Linked DNA regions of Homo sapiens: region 1 is linked to region 2. A link means that fine-mapping ties the variant in region 2 to the expression of a gene that starts in the linked region. Tissue or cell type: skeletal muscle. Region 2 holds a variant in brackets; the other region holds the start of a gene. All regions are shown on one strand. Distances are from middle to middle.

The links. PIP is the estimated chance that this variant, and not a neighbour inherited with it, causes the effect.
Region 1: it holds the start of KIF24, and the variant in region 2 is fine-mapped to the expression of KIF24 in skeletal muscle (GTEx, PIP 0.90).

The regions. Positions count from the first base shown.
Region 1 is chr9:34,324,767-34,332,871 of GRCh38, reverse strand. It overlaps KIF24 (kinesin family member 24), which reads left to right and starts at 3,604. Exons shown (of 13, transcript NM_194313.4): 1 at 3,604-3,766. NUDT2 (nudix hydrolase 2) reads right to left here and starts at 3,303. Exons shown (of 5, transcript NM_001161.5): 1 at 3,273-3,303. RefSeq lists enhancers at 3,358-3,547, 3,083-3,590, 3,678-3,777, 3,878-3,937.
Region 2 is chr9:34,151,525-34,159,629 of GRCh38, reverse strand. No RefSeq gene overlaps it. Among named protein-coding and RNA genes, the nearest start is that of UBAP1, 23 kb to the left of the region's middle. The variant C/T (reference allele first, on the strand shown) is at 3,390.

The sequences.
Region 1 (8,105 bases), 170 kb before region 2:
AGAACAATAACAAATGGAAGAGAAGAAAAAAGAAAGAAATGCAAAAGAAAAGCCCCAACTACCATGAATAAATTGAGACAAAGAAAATATTCCCTCAAATGCACCTTTCCCTGGACATCTGCCACTCCATTCTTGCAGAGACGAAGCTGCTGAGTCATTTTGTTATTTTTGCTATTGGCTGAGGGAGGAAACAGGAGATTTTACCTGTAATGGCATAAATATTGGCTTCTAGGATAAGGCCAAAGTCAGACAAGGTTGGGACAAAAATCATTCTTAGTGAAGGGGATTTGTTAAGCAGCCTATTAGTGCCATCTGCTGTACAATTCTAGAAAGCTAACTCGGGGAATTTGTCTGTTGTGCGTATCCCATGCGACAGACAGTGTGAAGGATTGACAGATAGATATGAAGCTGAATACTACCAAGCACCAACTTCCTAGAGATTTACAGGCTAGTGAAAGTGGAAGACATTCCAACAGACAAGTTACAGTGTGTTTTGTGCAACGTAAGATGGAAAGGCAGCAAAGAAGCATCTTTAGGTTAACAAGGTACCCCATAAGGATTCTGATGGGTCACTAGTTTACCAGGCAGAAGGGAGGCGGATGCAAGGCACTGCCAGCAAAGGGAGGAGTGTGGGCAACACCCTCAAGCACAAAATGACATCTCATTGGTAAACAGCTTAGTTTATATTCTGTAGGCAATGAAGCCTCTGACTGGTTTTAGGCAAGGGTATAATTTGGTCAGACTGACATTTTACAAAGATATTCTAGCTGCAAGCAAGCTGGGGAACGAATTAGGACAGATTGGAGGCAGAGAGATTAACCAGTTACAAGTCTATTGCAACAGACCAGTTAACAAATGATTCCAGTTAGATCAAGGCAGAGGCTGTGAGAAAGGAAAGGAAGGGATGAATCTGAGAGATATTTCAAAGTAAAATGGACAATAGTGATATTTCATTGTCTAAGGGACAGAGAGATGTTTCATAAGCCAAGGGAAAGAGAAAGGCTTTGGTTTGAGTGCCTGGGTGGAGGAGGGGGTGCAAGTGAAGCATTTGTTTGGGACAAGTTGAATTTGAAGTGCTATAGTCTATCCATAAGATAAATGAACAGATGGGTCTAAAGTTCAGTGATCATCTCATCCTATCTCTTCATTTCCCAAGGTGGGAATTTACTTTTTTAAAATTATTTTTATTAAAACAATTTTTTTCTCCTCCCTTCTCTACCAAGACCACGGTGAAAATTTTCTATTAGAGCAAGATATTGCTCCTACCATAGGTACCTCTGCAGCTCACATTCCCTCCAATTTAGGTAAGTCAAGCTGTCCAACCTGCCCCTGCATCTGTCTGGTATTCCAAGCATTTTCATCCTCCTTTAGTCAGAAACACAGAAAAGCATGGCTGTCTATGCAGTCAGAAAGGCCTAGCTATTGAAGTTAATAGAGCAAGATACTTAGAGCAAGATACTTAACTTCCTCATTTGTAAAATGAAGTTAACACCTACTTTGCATGGTTGTTGTGGAGTTTATAAATGACATATATAGAGGGTCTGACATTATCAGAGGTACTAAATATATGAGTTACTGTTACCCGTGTGTCATAAAAGATCATCAAAAAGCTTCTCTGTTTTAAAGAAATGACTTTTCATCTTGTCTGTTAAACTGCTCAACACTGTTCACCACAGTATATATATTCCTTATAAGGTCCCACAGCATAAATTCCTTTTAATATAGAAACTAGAAAAATAATTTATCTTTTGAAGAATGGATTTGTTTCCTTATTAGTAAGAATTACCTTTTTTCCCTTAACTGACTAATTTTGGGCAAAATTGGGTACTCAGTTACAAAAAGTACACCAACGCACTGACTAGTGTATTTGCCTGTTCTTATTATAAGAATAATAGCTACCTTTTTTTTTTTGAGACGGAGTCTCCCTCTGTCGCCCAGGCTGGAGTGCAGTGGTGCGATCTCTGCTCTCTGCAAACTCCGCCTCCCGGGTTCGTGCCATTCTCCTGCCTCAGCCTCCCGAGTAGCTGGGACCACAGGCGCCCGCCACCACGCCCGGCTAATTTTTTGTGTTTTTAGTAGAGACGGGGTTTCACCGTGTCAGCCAGGATGGTCTCGATCTCCTGACCTCGTGATCCGCCCGCCTCGGCCTCCCAAAGGGCTAGGATTACAGGCGTGAGCCACCGCGCCCGGCCGCTACCATTTTTTAAGAAGTTACTACTCGCCAGGCGTTGTGTCAAGTGCTTTACCTTCATTATTTCACTTAATCTTCACAACAACCCGCTGAGGCATTACTGCCATTTTTCAGAAGAGTAGAAAGGGAACTATAGCTCAGAGATGTCTGGGTAAGTGACTCAAATGTAGGTCTGCCTGACTCCTAACATCAATGATCTTAACCTTAACTCTATAATAGCGTTTTACATTTGACAATTTGATTGCATTCAGTTTTTTTTTGTTTTGTTTTGTTTTTGAGACGGAGTCTCGCTCTGTCGCCCAGGCTGGAGTGCAGTGGCGCGACCTCCGCTCACTGCAAGCTCCGCCTCCTGGGTTCATGCCATTCTCCTGCCTCAGCCTCCCGAGTAGCAGGGACTATACGTGCCCGCCACGACGCCTGGCTAACTTTTGTATTTTGTTTAGTAGAGACGGGGTTTCACCGTGTTAGCCAGGATGGTCTCGATCTCCTGACCTCGTGATCCGCCCGCCTTGGCCTCCCAAAATGCTGGGATTACAGGCGTGAGCCACCGCACCCGGCCTGCATTGTTTACGCTGTCCCTTTTTTGTTTGTTTGTTTAAGGCGGTGGGGCTCTTGTTCGACTTTCTTTACTTCTGCTATAACTGCCACGATATTATCCATTCAATAACTGAAGCAATTAGAAAACATAAAATCTCTTTTGGAAAGCAGGCGGGGTTTAATGGGTAGCAACAAGTGAAACTGAGGCCCAGGGAGGGGAAGGTTCGGCGCCTGGGCCTCTGGGCCCTAAACCTGGACCTCTCCCGCCTCTGGGATTTGGACGACCCACCCTATCCCCACTCCGACGGGGACAAGCAAGGCTCAGAGTCAGGGAACCTCCCTTCTCCCGGTGCAGACAGGAAAACTGAGGTCCTGAGAGCGGATGGGACCTGGCCTGCCCACACCTCACTGCCAACTTAGAGGAGGGCGCATCCCTCTCGGGCCCTGCAGCGACCAGAGGTTTGCCAGAGGCAGATTCCCATCGCTCCAAGGCTCATTTCCTCCACTGAGAACTAAAATCAAGTGGGCCCTTAAGGGTACTCACCCGAAGCAGAAGGAGGTAGGAGGCGGACCTTGGACGGAAACTGAAGTACACCGGCCAATCAGAAGAGCCTGGTTACGCTTGGGCCCATCAATAGAATTCGGCAGAAGGATCTTCGACCCGCCTCAAAGGTGCGCGTCTCACACTGAAACGTCGCGAGATCTTCCCTCAAGCGGAACGATTGGCTGAAGGTCGGAAATTGAGAGTTACGCCCACGGTTTCTTCAGACCTCTGATTGGTCTTCCAGAGGAGAAGTCAACGAACGTCAACCGATTCCTTGGATGCCCATTGGTGGGCGGTGCGGGACTGGCGACGCGCGGGCCACAGCGCGGGCGTTCGAACTGGCGCTTGGCGGCGTTGCCATGGAGATGCGGCCTGGCCGCCGCCGGTGGCTCCCGGGTTGACGGGACTGTTAGGTTGCGGGCTTTGGGGCTCACTCCCGACGGCATTGTCTTCTCCTCTTCTCAGACAGGGCAGACCGAGGAGTTTGGACCGAGGTGAGAAAGGGCGGGGAGAATAGAGGAGGGGTAGGTCTGGTCCGGAACCGTGGCGCCTGCCCGCGGACACGGGTGCGCGTGACGTCGGCTGAGCGCGGGAGGAAACTGGCAGTTGTGAGGGAACCGAGAGTTGGCCCCTCTTGGCTCTTCCTAAAGTTCACCTACTTTCCTATCTTTCATCCCCATATCTCTGCCTTTTCTTCAGCAATTATCTTGAACGCCACTTCTCTCACTTTGGGAGACTAAACTCTTGAGTCCCAAAGCCTTCTTGCTTTTGAACCGATAAGCCTGACCGGCACCTCTTTTAGGGCATTTCTATTCGCCCTTGGGTTGTTTACTTCCGGGAAGCCCGTTCGCTTCCCTTTTCCCATAAAATTTTGAAGCCTTTGAGGTAAGGCAAGCATCGTTCACAATGTCTTGCACATAGTAGATTTTCAGGAAATATTTGTTGAGTTGAATTTAATTTACAAGAAATAGATTGGATTCCTCTTCATGCCCTGCCTTGTTGTCTCTCTGCTTCAGAGACGATTTTTTATTTCGAGGCTAGGGGGAGGCCACCCTAATCTTCAATGCAAAAGGACCTAAAAGTCCACACACAGTCCACAGCTGGCCTTTCTACTCTTTGTGAAAGGCTAAACTTTTTTGGATTGGTTGCTGCAACTCTTCCTGCATCTGTGGCTTTTAGCCTTGGTCTCCCAATAATTTTATTAGACTCCTTTTAGTCTTTGCTTAAAATAAACCATTCTGTTGCTGTATGCCAAGATAATTTATCTCCCTTTAGCTTCTTAGTGACCGGCAGCTATTGTCACATTTTAAGTGTGCTTTGGAAAATGTTTTAAAGCATCTTCTTTGTACTTGTATTCTACAAGTAGAGAGGCTTTGTAGTCTCTCTATTGAAGTGCATATAACAGCTGCTCAGGTGAACTCCATCTATTCATCAGGTGTCTATGATAGAATTGCGTTCCTAAGACTGTTTCGTTGTTAACTCATGGATTATATATTCACAGCCTGATTGTTGGTGTGATTGCTCCTTATATCAAATTCATAGCTCACTGGTGGCCTTAATAAAAGGAGTGAAAAAGTTCAGTACAGCAGCTATGTTCTTGTTACCCTTTTATAAAAGTTTGAAACACTACCTTATAGCTGTGACATGTAGTGGAAACCCACTACATGTGGGTTTGGCTTTGGCTCTGTCTCTGTCTCTAATTCACTGTGGGTGGCTTTGCAAGTCATTTAGTCCCTTTATTATTATTATTATTTTTTTTTTATTAGAGAAAATGTCTTGCTCTGTCACCCAGGCTGTAGTGCACTAGCATGATAATAGCTCACCGCAGCCTTGAACGCCTGAATCTAGCCCCTTTAGACCTCATTTTTTCCATCTGGAAAATCAAAGAATTGAATTAGATTAAAATTCCTGTGGCTCTACTCTCAAGTCAAGTAGTTGATGTCAGGTAGACCACACACTCTCAGCCTTCCAAAGACCATACAGACTTTTTTTTTAGCTGCTGAAAGTAGTAGTTACCATTTATTGAGTGTTCACCCCGTACAAAGCACTGTATCCAGGGCTTTATATGCATATTACATTTTTCTTAGTGTAGCACATTACTGCTAAGATAGCATTTTATTTAAAATTTGTGGTTTTATATTGTTAATGAAAATCTTTAGTTATTCAGAGTGTGTCCTTGGGGCAACCTAAGGTATGAGCCTCTCAGTTTTTAGTTTAGGGAGAACCACAGTTTCTTTCTCTGGGCTGCTCTTTTGTCGTAAAGTGAGGGGCTGAACTCTTCTAGATCCCTTCCAGATCTAGTATTCTATGATGCCTGATATATTAATCCAGTTTCCCTATGCTGGCTCAGCAAACCAGTTTATAATTTGCACAGTGTAGATCCTCAACACATTTTGTTAAATAAATAATAGAGTTCTACTTCTTAAACCTTGAGTGTATGGTCATTGTATACCTCCCAAGTTACTGTCTCAAGGGTTTTGATGTTCATATCGTGTTGAATAAGAAGAGTTTTCTGTAGGTATAAACTAATAATAATAGTATAATATATTGTTGAGTGTTTATATATCAGACACTGAATGTAGCAGTTAATTTACATTATTCTAATTAACCCTCATGAAAGGAAACATTTTTTCCAAGTCAGCATTTTTTTTTGTCAGTTCAGTGCAGTAGCTTCCTAAATGATCTCCCTGTTTCCACTTTTGCCCACCTGCTGTGATCCATTTCCTCACAGAACTGGGAGAGTGAACTTTGAAGACGAATCATAGCATATACTTTCTCCACTTAAGATCCTCTAATGACTTCCTACTTCACTTAAAAGTAAAATTCAGACACTTTTATGTGGCCCAGTACACCCTACATAATCTGGCCCCTACCTTTCTCTCCTCTTCTCATACTATTCTCCTTCTCACCTACTATGCCAGCCAACCTGTCCGTGTTTGATGGCTTGATTTTGCCATGCTCATTTCCACCTTTGGGCTAATGTGCTCACGTGGAACCCTCTTCCTCCTGATTTTTACATAAGTGACTCCATGTTATTTCAGGTTTCACCTCAAATATTCCCTTCTGAATGAAGCCTTCTCTGATCATCCAATGTAAAGTAAGCCCTGCACTGGGCTTTATTCTTCGGTAGTGATTATCATCATCTAAAACTACCGCTTATTGATTATTAATTATCTCTTCCCATTAAAATAATAGTGTCATGAGGGCAGGGACCTTATCTGTTTTTTGGGGGGTTTTCTTGAGACAGGCTCTTACTCTGTCGCCCTGTTGCCCACACTGAACTGCAGTGGTGTGATCATGGCTCACTGTAGCCTCTGACTCCCAGGCCCAAGCAATCCTCCCACCTCAGCCCCCCAAGTAGCTGGGACCACAGGCATGTACCACCATGCCCAGCTAATTTTGTTTATTTGTAGAGACAAGGCCTCACTATGTTGTCCAGGCTCATCTCAAACTCCTGGGCTCAAGCAATCCTCCCTCAGCCTCCTAAAGTGTTGGGATAACAGGCATGAGCCACTGTGCCTGGCTGACCTTGTCTGTTTTGTTCACTTATATTCCTGGTGCATAAAACAGGGCCTATCTCATACAAGTCTCTCAAAAAATATTTCTTGAAGATTGGATAAAGTTTCCTCTTGGAACTGTAACCATATCTGTGTCCATATCAATTCATTTGAGTAATACAAACTTGCATAATTTTGGTGTCCAGGAGCAGTGACTCAGGGCACCAGCATCTCTGTCACAATTTTCCTGAGTAATCAAATTACCCTGATAAATAGTTTCTACCACCCGTTACCACAAACGATATCAAATGCTTTTATAGAGTTTTAATATACTGTAGGGATATTTATTCATTAAACAATTATTGAATATTATTTCCAATCACTCTTTTATTTATTTATTTATATTTTTTTCTGAGATAGTCTTACTCTGTTGCCCAGGCTGGAGTGCAGTGGCGCAATCTTGGCTCACTGCAACCTCTTCCTCCCAGGTTCCAGCGATTCTCATGTCAGCCTCCTGAGTAGCTGGGATTACAAAGTGTGTGCCAACATTCCCAGCTAATTTCTGTATTTTTTGTGGAGATGGGGTTTCACCATGTTGACCAGGCTGGTCTCGAACTTTTGGCCTCAAGTGATCCACCCACCTCAGCCTCCCAAAGTTCTGGGATTACAGGCATGAGCCACCGTGCCTGGCCCCAGGCACTGTTTTAGAACCTGGGTATAAAAAGACTAATAAGACATATTGCTTTTTTTTTTTTTTTGAGACGAAGTCTCACCCTACTGCCCAGGCTGGAGTGCAGTGGTGTCATCATGGTTCACTGCAGCCTCAACCTCCTGGGCTCAAGTGATCCTCCCATCTCAGCCTCCCAAGTAGCTGGGACCACAGGTGTGTGCCACCATGCCCAATTAATTTTTATTTATTTACTTATTTATAGAGATGGGTTCTCCATATGTTGCCCAGGCTGGTCTTAAACTCCTGGGCTCAAGTGATCTTTCTGCCTCAGCCTCCCAAAGTGCTGGGATTACAGGTGTGAGCCACTCTGCCTGGGCAAGACACATTCCTTGACCACAAAGAAATTATACTCTATTAGGGGAAATAGACATAATCAAATAATTATCATATAATAATTATTAATATAATTAACTGTAATAATAGAGATATGCAAAAGGTATGATGCAGACACGGAAGGGACATCTGATCACATTGGGGGAGACCAGAAAAGACCTCATTTGTTGTTATAATCAGTAAGAGGTAGACAGGTAAAGGGAAGTTTGATGATAGTGGAGGAGGCCACTTAAGAGCACAATGTGAATGAATGCACAGAGAAATAAAACGGTC
Region 2 (8,105 bases):
AGAATCGCTTGAACCTGGGAGGTGAAGGTTGCAGTGAGCCAAGATTGCACCATTGCACTCCAGCCTGGGCAACAGAGTGAGATTCTGTCTCAAAAAAAAAAAAAAGTTTTGTTTCTCAGACTCACCACATCATAAGGTGGATGGGCCAGCAGCAATCTGTCGCAATGCAGAAGTGGTACATTCAGGAGCAGACACAAATACAGCTAAAGTGTATAAGCTGCAGGTGGCACGAGCCCCCAGTCATCTACTGCTCTTACCTTAGCACCTCTTAGCTTATATCTATTGCCATATATGCTCTTGTGGCCAGCTAACAGAGGAGGTTGGCTCGGTGGGTGAGAAAACGCAAGCAGAAAATAGGACATAGTGAGGACCCTGAAAGACAAGGTGTTAAGAAGCAATCCTCCTAACTGGGAAGCTTTGGCAAATGCACCATCTAATTTTGGTGAATAAAAGTAGCCTGAGGTTAGGATATATTCAGAATCATGGATAGTGGTGAGTGACTGGTTGGTTGGTTAGAGGCCTTGAATGAGAAAGACTGGAAACATTGGGAATAAGGAGATCTAAGGACAAAGAATTCCAAGTGAACATATAGGAAGGGGCATGAGTATGAAGATCTTTGTATCACATGTGTATTTGTTTGCTAGGGTTGCCATAACAAAATACTATAGACTGGATGGATTAAACAATGTAAATCTATTTTCTCACAGTTCTGGAGGCCAGAAGTCCAAGGTCAAGGTGTCAGGAGGTTTGGTTTCTTCTCAGGCCTCTCTCCTTAGCTTTCGCCTTCTCACTGTATCCTCAACTCTATGCCTTTTCTCTGTGCACTCACGTCTCTGGTATCTCTGTGTGTCCAGATTTCTTCCTTATAAGGCCTCCAGTCAGATTGCATTAGGATCTTTAATCACCTACTTAAAGGCCCTTTCTCCAAATACAGTCACATTCTGAGGTAAGTGGGGTGGTTAGGACTTCAACATAAGAACTTGGAGGGGCGGGGCACAATTCAGTTCGTAACAACATGTTAAGGCATACCAGAGAGAATGCACCACATAAGAGGCACTGAACAGCCAAGTAAACAAAATGACTCAGCTAGTTGATGATAGCCTGTGTCATTAACCCCCCCAGAGCAGGCACAGTGCGCACATGAACAAAGTAGCCATACTGGCAGGAATGCAGGCTTTTTGTAGGTCCAGGGCCATGAATTCCCATTCACCACAGCTTCCCCATTTCTCCAAATTGCGTGTCAAACAGATTTCTTTACACTGGAACCAAAGTGTATGAAGGTAGCTGTTTTGCTGTATTCTTGCCGACATTTAAAATTTTTTTGATTTTGCTAAAAAAAAAAAAAGAGAGAGAGAGACAGAGTCTTGCTCTGTCGCTGAGGCTGGTGTGTACTGGCCCAATCATAACTTTCTGCAGCCTCAAATTCTGGGACTTAAGTGATCCTTCTGCCTCAGCCTCCAGAGTAGCTGTGACTACAGGCATGCACCACCATGCCCAGCTAATTTTTTAGTTTTTTGTAGAGACAGGGATCTTGCTATGTTGCCCAGGCTGGCCTCAAACTCCTGAATTCAAGTGATCCTCCCACCTTGACCTCCCAAAGCACAGGGTTACAAGCGTGAGCCATCCTACCAAGCCAATGAATGGTTTTTCATTGGATTTTAATTTGTATTTCCTTATGCTGTATATTTCTTGTGTTTATTGACCATTTGTGAATTGCTTGTTATTATCCTCTGCCCATTTTACCACTGGGTTGTTTCCTTTTTTCTTATATATTTGAAGGAGCTGGCATATTCCATACATTATCCTTCTGTTAAATGTATTTAAAAAGATCTCTCCTTGCCATTTACCTTTTAAGTCTTATGGTGTCCACCTTCATTTTTTCCCCCTTTCTTTACTCCAACCCAATTAAATTAATTATTAAAAGTTTTTCAAAAATGAAATCCTAAGTTCCTCTAATAGTTGGTACTGGACTTGCCCTCTGGTGATAAAGAATGAGAAAAGTAGACAAATTTATATGAAATACCTATTCTCAGACACTGGACAAGGAGTACAGGACTCTGTTCCCTGAGAGAAGAAAAAAGCAAGTAAGATGAGCCTAAAAACACTTTGGCTTTCTGCCTGTAGACAGTTTCTAGGCTTCTGCTCAGGGTGAGGAAATCCAAGCAGAACATAGCAGTGTTCATGGGGTGAGGAAGCAGAGATCAAGTTTGAGGAAACTAAGGCAGCTGGGATTTTGGGGGCAATTTTGCCAGAGAAGAGCTATATGAAAAAGAGGATCAGAAATGTATTGTGGTCCCACTGAGTCTGATGCCGAACACTAAGCCACATGTAAATAGAGTGAAATTCCATAACGCTGGTCAACATGCTTGTCAAAGATAAACAAATAAACTAGTTACAGTGGTAAGGACACCTATTCATCAGTAATATTCCTTTGCAATAGGGAAGAGGGTGCAGTATGAACTAAACTCAGCTTCCATTTTTAGAGGTAACTAGGCCTTATAAAGAGAGAAAGACATATGATGTTAGTTGTGGGCTTAAAAAAAACATTTAGGCCAGGTGGGGTGGCACACACCTGTAATCCCAGCATTTTGGGAGGCCAAGGCAGGTGGATCACCTGAGGTCAGGAGTTCGAGACCACCATGGCCAACATGGTGAAACCCCATCTCTACTAAAAATACAAAAATTTAGCCAGGCATGGTGGCGGGTGCCTGTAATCCCAGCTACTCAGGAGACTAAGGCAGGAGAATCGCCTGAACCTGGGAGGCAGAGGTTGCAGTGAGCCGAGATCGTGCCATTGCACTCCAGCGTGGGCAACAAGAGTGAAACTCCGTCTCAAAAAAATAAATAAATAAAAATAATCGGTTTGCCGGGCATGGTGGCTCACGCCTGTAATCCCAGCACTTTGGGAGACCGAGGCAGGTGGATCACAAGGTCAGCAGATCAAGACCCGCCTGGCCAACATAGTGAAACCCCATCTCTACTAAAAATACAAAAATTTACCTGGGCATGGTGGTAGGCACCTGTAATCCCAGCTACTCAGGAGGCTGAGGCAGAAGAATTGCTTGAACCCGCGAGGTGGAGGTTGCAGTGAGCTGCGATTGCGCCACTGCACTCCAGCCTGGGTGACAGTGCCAGACTCCGTCTCAAAAAAAAAAAAAAAAAATTGGTCAGGCGCGGTGGCTCATGCCTGTAATCCCAGCACTTTGGGAGGGTGAGGTGGGTGGATCGTTTGAGGTCAGGAGTTCAAGACTAGCTGGCCAACGTGGCAAAACCCCATCTCTACTGAAAATACAAAAATTAGCTTGGCGTGGTACACCCAGCTACTCAGGAGGCTGAGGCAGGAAAATCACTTGAACCCGGGAGGCGGAGGTTGCAGTGAGCCAAGATCA[C/T]GCCACTGCACTCCAGCCTGGGTGACACAGGAAGACTCTGTCTCAAAAATAATAATAATAATAAATTAAAAAATAAAGACAAAGACTGAGTTGTGGGATAGAACAGAGGGCGCTGAGTCAGGAAAAATTACAAAGGGTTGGTTGGTGTAAATGCCAATTAGGCCACCTTTGTCTGTTAATTGGCAATTAACGAGTTAGAATTCTATCCTCCCAGAGAGACTAGGGGACAGAGGCCCTATCCTTTCCAATGATTACATTTCAATGGAATAGCTTTCAGGTCCTTGAGAAAGACACTCCTAAATTATGGGAGATACATATATCTTTCAAAGGCACAGAGGAAGGATCCACAATTCTAAGCCCTTTTAAGTAAATGCTCTAAGAAATGGTGGTCAGGAACCTATCTGTAGGTGCTGCTTTTTTAGCTTCCTTGGGCAGACACTTTAAGCCAGCAGGTGGGGCTAGGCTAAGGTCATCCTAGGAATGCAGACATCAGGTATTAGAGATTATGTTAGTGTGTATTTAAGTCTTTTAAAAATGGGGGGGAATTTTTTTGTTTGTGGTCCTTTTTTTTTTTTTTTTAAGACGGAGTTTTGCTCTTGTTGCCCAGGCTGAAGTGCAATGGCACAATCTTGGCTCACTGCAACCTCTGCCTCCTGGGTTCAAGTGATTCTCCTGCCTCAGCCTCCCAAGTAGCTGGGATTACAGGCATGTGCCACCACGTCCAGCTAATTTTGTATTTTTAGTAGAGATGGGGTTTCTCCATGTTAGCCAGGTGTGGTGGTGCGTGCTTGTAATCCCAGCTACTCAGGAGGCTGAGGCAGGAGAATCACTTGAACTCAGGAGGCTGAGTTTGCAGTGAGCTAATATTGTGGTACTGCACTCCAGCCTGGGCAAAAGAATGAGACTCCATCTCAAAAAGAAAAAAAAGCCAGGCACGGTGGCTCACACTTGTAATCCCAGCACTTTGGGGGGCCAAGGCGGGCAGATCACAAGGTCAAGAGATCGAGACCATCCTGGCCAACATGGTGAAACCCCGTCTCTACTAAAAATACAAAAATTAGCTGGGTGTGGTGGCGTGCACCTGTAGTCCCAGCTACTTGGGAGGCTGAAGCAGGAGAATCACTTGCAGTAAGCCAAGATCGCGCCACTGCACTCCAGCCTAGTGACAGAGTGAGACTCCGTCTCAAAAAAAAAAAAAAAAAAGTCTAAAAAAACCTCTTTTACATTAAAAGAGGCTTAAGGAACATAGCACCTGGATTCTAAGATTTGAAGTGTCATCTGTGGTTGGATCCTAGTTTGGACAGAATGCATGTATAAGTAATTTTTGGTACAGTTGGAGAAATTTGAGTAGAAATTAGGAATTAAATCTTTTTGACTATGTAATTTACGAGAGTTAAGAATGTCTACAGTTATTTTAAAACACTTCAGCATAAAAAACTTGAAAGGGAAAAAAATCATTGACTAAAATCCATAGACTAACATGACTTGAACTGACTAAAATTAAAAAGAAATGTTGACTTGTTTCTAAAGCAATTACCGCTTTTCTAAAATCATTACAATGTTAAATTTAATTTTTTAGAATTATTGGTTAAAAAATTTTTAAAGAATAAAAAATAAAGTAAATGAAATTATTGGTTTAAGCTGTGTGCAGCGGCACAAGTCAGTAGTTTCAGCTACTTGGGAGGCTGAGGTGGAAGGACTGCTTGAGACAAGGAATTCAAGGCTGCAGTGTTCCATAATCATACCTGTGAAAAGCCACTACACTCTAGGCTGGGTAACATAGTGAAACCCTGTATCTAAAATAAATTAATTTTAAAAAGTAAAAGACAAGAACCAGGTAGCTACAGAGATCTAGATGGCAAAAACTATTAGATAGTCTTTTCAGAATGACACCTGGGATGAATCAGCTCCAGCCATTTTCCATCTCCATTTCACCCCCAAAAGGATTCGAATTACAGGCAACAAGGGTCTGGCTAGCCTAACTTGGGTAATATGACCACTTGGCTGGAGAAGTAGGGAATCTTGACTGACAGTTTTAGCATTAGAGTGTGCAGAAGAGGAAAGGCACTTCCCTAAAGAAAAAATCAAATTATGCTACCAGAAAAAGGAAAAATTAGATTCTAGAATAGGCAAAAAAAAAAAAAAAAATAGATTTCACAACTTCACATGTGTTTGGCATACACATACATCATTTCATTTACTCTTCATAATAACCCTATGTAGTAGGTATTAACATCTCGGAGAAAGGCTCAGAGAGGTTCTGTAACTTATCCAAGATCACAAAGCAACTTGGCAGCATAGCCAGCATTTGAACTCAGTTCAAAATCCTACTTTCAAAACCCATGCTTTTTCTGTTACACCATGTGTGTAGTAGGAAAAATAAACTAAACGAACTGTTTTCTCCTACTATACTCTTAACATAGAACACTTCTGTAACAAGATGTGTGGGGTTTTTTTCTCCTGTACACCAGGCAGTTCTCCAGTGGACACCAACTGGGTGTCATATAATTCAGTTCAATTCTGACACTATCTACATGAAGTTAGAATTAGATCCCACACCTTAAGGGCTCAGTCCCACCAGACTGCCCTGCTCCTCAGATGCCAGTTGCAAGTTTGGGCCTCCAGAACTTCTGGCTATAAATTGGGAGTTCCCATGACTCCCTCCTACTTAACTTGCTAGGGAGGCTCACAGAACTCAGGGAAACATTTTATTACATCTATCGGTTTATTACAAAGGATATTACAAAGGGTACAGATGGACAGACACATGAAGAGATACATAGGACAAGGTCTTGAAAGGTCCTGAGCACGGGTGTTTCTGTCCCTGTGGAGTTGGTATGTACCATCCTCCCAGCACATGGATGTGTTCCCCAACCCAAAAACTGTACCTTTGGTTTTGTTGTTGTTGTTGTTGTTGTTGTTTTGAGACGTAGTCTTGCTCTGTCGCCCAGGCTGCAGTGCAGTGGCATGATCTCGGCTCACTGCAACCTCCGCCTCCCGGGTTCAAGCAATTCTCCTGCCTCAGCCTCCCAAGTAGCTGGGACTGCAGGCATGCAACACCATGCTCAGCTAATTTTTGTATTTTTAGTAGGGATGGGATTCACTATGTTGGCCAGGATGGTCTCAATCTCCTAACCTCATGATCCGCCTGCCTCGGCCTCCCACAGTGCAGGGATTACAGGAGTGAGCCACCACACCCGGCCGGGATTTTTTTTCTTTTGAGATGGAGTCTTGCTCTTGTAGCACAAGCTGGAGTGCAATGGCGCGATCTCGGCTCACTGCAACCTCCGCCTCCCGGGTTCAAGTGATTCTCCTGCCTCAGCCTCCTGAGTAACTGGGATTACAGACACCTGCCACCACGCATGGCTAATTTTTTTTTTTTTTTTTGAGACGGAGTCTCGCTCTGTTGCCCAAGCTGGAGTGCAGTGGTGCAATCTTGGCTCACTGCAACCTCCACCTCTCGGGTTCAAGTGATTCTCCTGCCTCACCCTCCTGAGTAACTGGGACTACAGACTCACACCACCACACCCAGCTAATTTTATTTTTCTGTTTTTTGCTATTTTTAGTAGAGACAGGGTTTAGTAGCGATATGTTGTCCAGGCTAGTCTAGAACTCCTGACCTCAAGTGATCTGCCCACCTTGGCCTCCCAAAGTGTTGGGATTACAGGCGTGAGCCACTGTGCCTGGCCATGACTGATTATTAATGCCATTTCCAGCCCTCTCTCCTCTCCAGAAAATGGGAGGTAAGGGTAAAAGTTCCAAGCTTCAAATTATGACTTGGTCTTTCTGGTGGTTAGCCCCCATCCAGGAGCTCACAGAGTTGCTTCAGCACAAAATGTACTTCTATCAACTGAAATTACAAGAGACTTAGGAGCTCTGTATCAGAAGCTCCAATCTCTCAGAAAATTATACAGTTCTTAGAAGCTCTGTGTCAGACAGGAACCATGGTCAAAGACCAATTTGCATATTTCTTATTATTTTACACCATGCCATTAGGCAAGGCAGACAATTACATTTCTTCTATTCTTCAGTTTCCCAATCAGTAGAAAGAAGTAACAACTTGCTCTGGGTCTCCTGAGTAGCTTGGATCTCATAGCTAACTAACAGGTTTGCAGAGCAGCCAGAGCTCCCTTGGAAGTGACTTCCTATTTCCTTAATTTTTCTGACATTGATTAGAAGGGGAAAAAAAGGAAAAAAAATGAAATGCATAATATTAACGACTTTTAAAATACTTCTTTTGTTCCAAGCGTAGTATTTTATATGTCTCTGTGCATTGAATTCTCTTAATAGTTCTGTAAGGAACACAACATTATTAACCCCAATTTGCAACGAAGGAAACACGTTTAGAGAGTGGAAGTTATTACTCAGGATCACTGGCTTTCAACCCAAGTCGGTCTGACTCCAAAACTGGGTGCTCCAAACAACAGCACCCCACTACCCACTCTCCTGACCTTTTTGCCACTGAGGCCCAAAGATGCCTTCCCTTCTTGATGAGAGAAGGGGTAGTCTCAGTCTCCTCACCTACATAATAAAGGAGTCAGAATCACTTCTCCCCCAAGGCCCCTTTACCTCTGACTGCTGCTGCTACTGGCAAGGCCAAGAGCTGAGTTCTGTGCTGATCACAGAGAAGAGCAAGGCCTCACTGAATTCATGGACTTTATGTCCCAACGGGAGCTCTCAACTGAGGTACATGACTTACTCCGGCAAAGAAGGGGC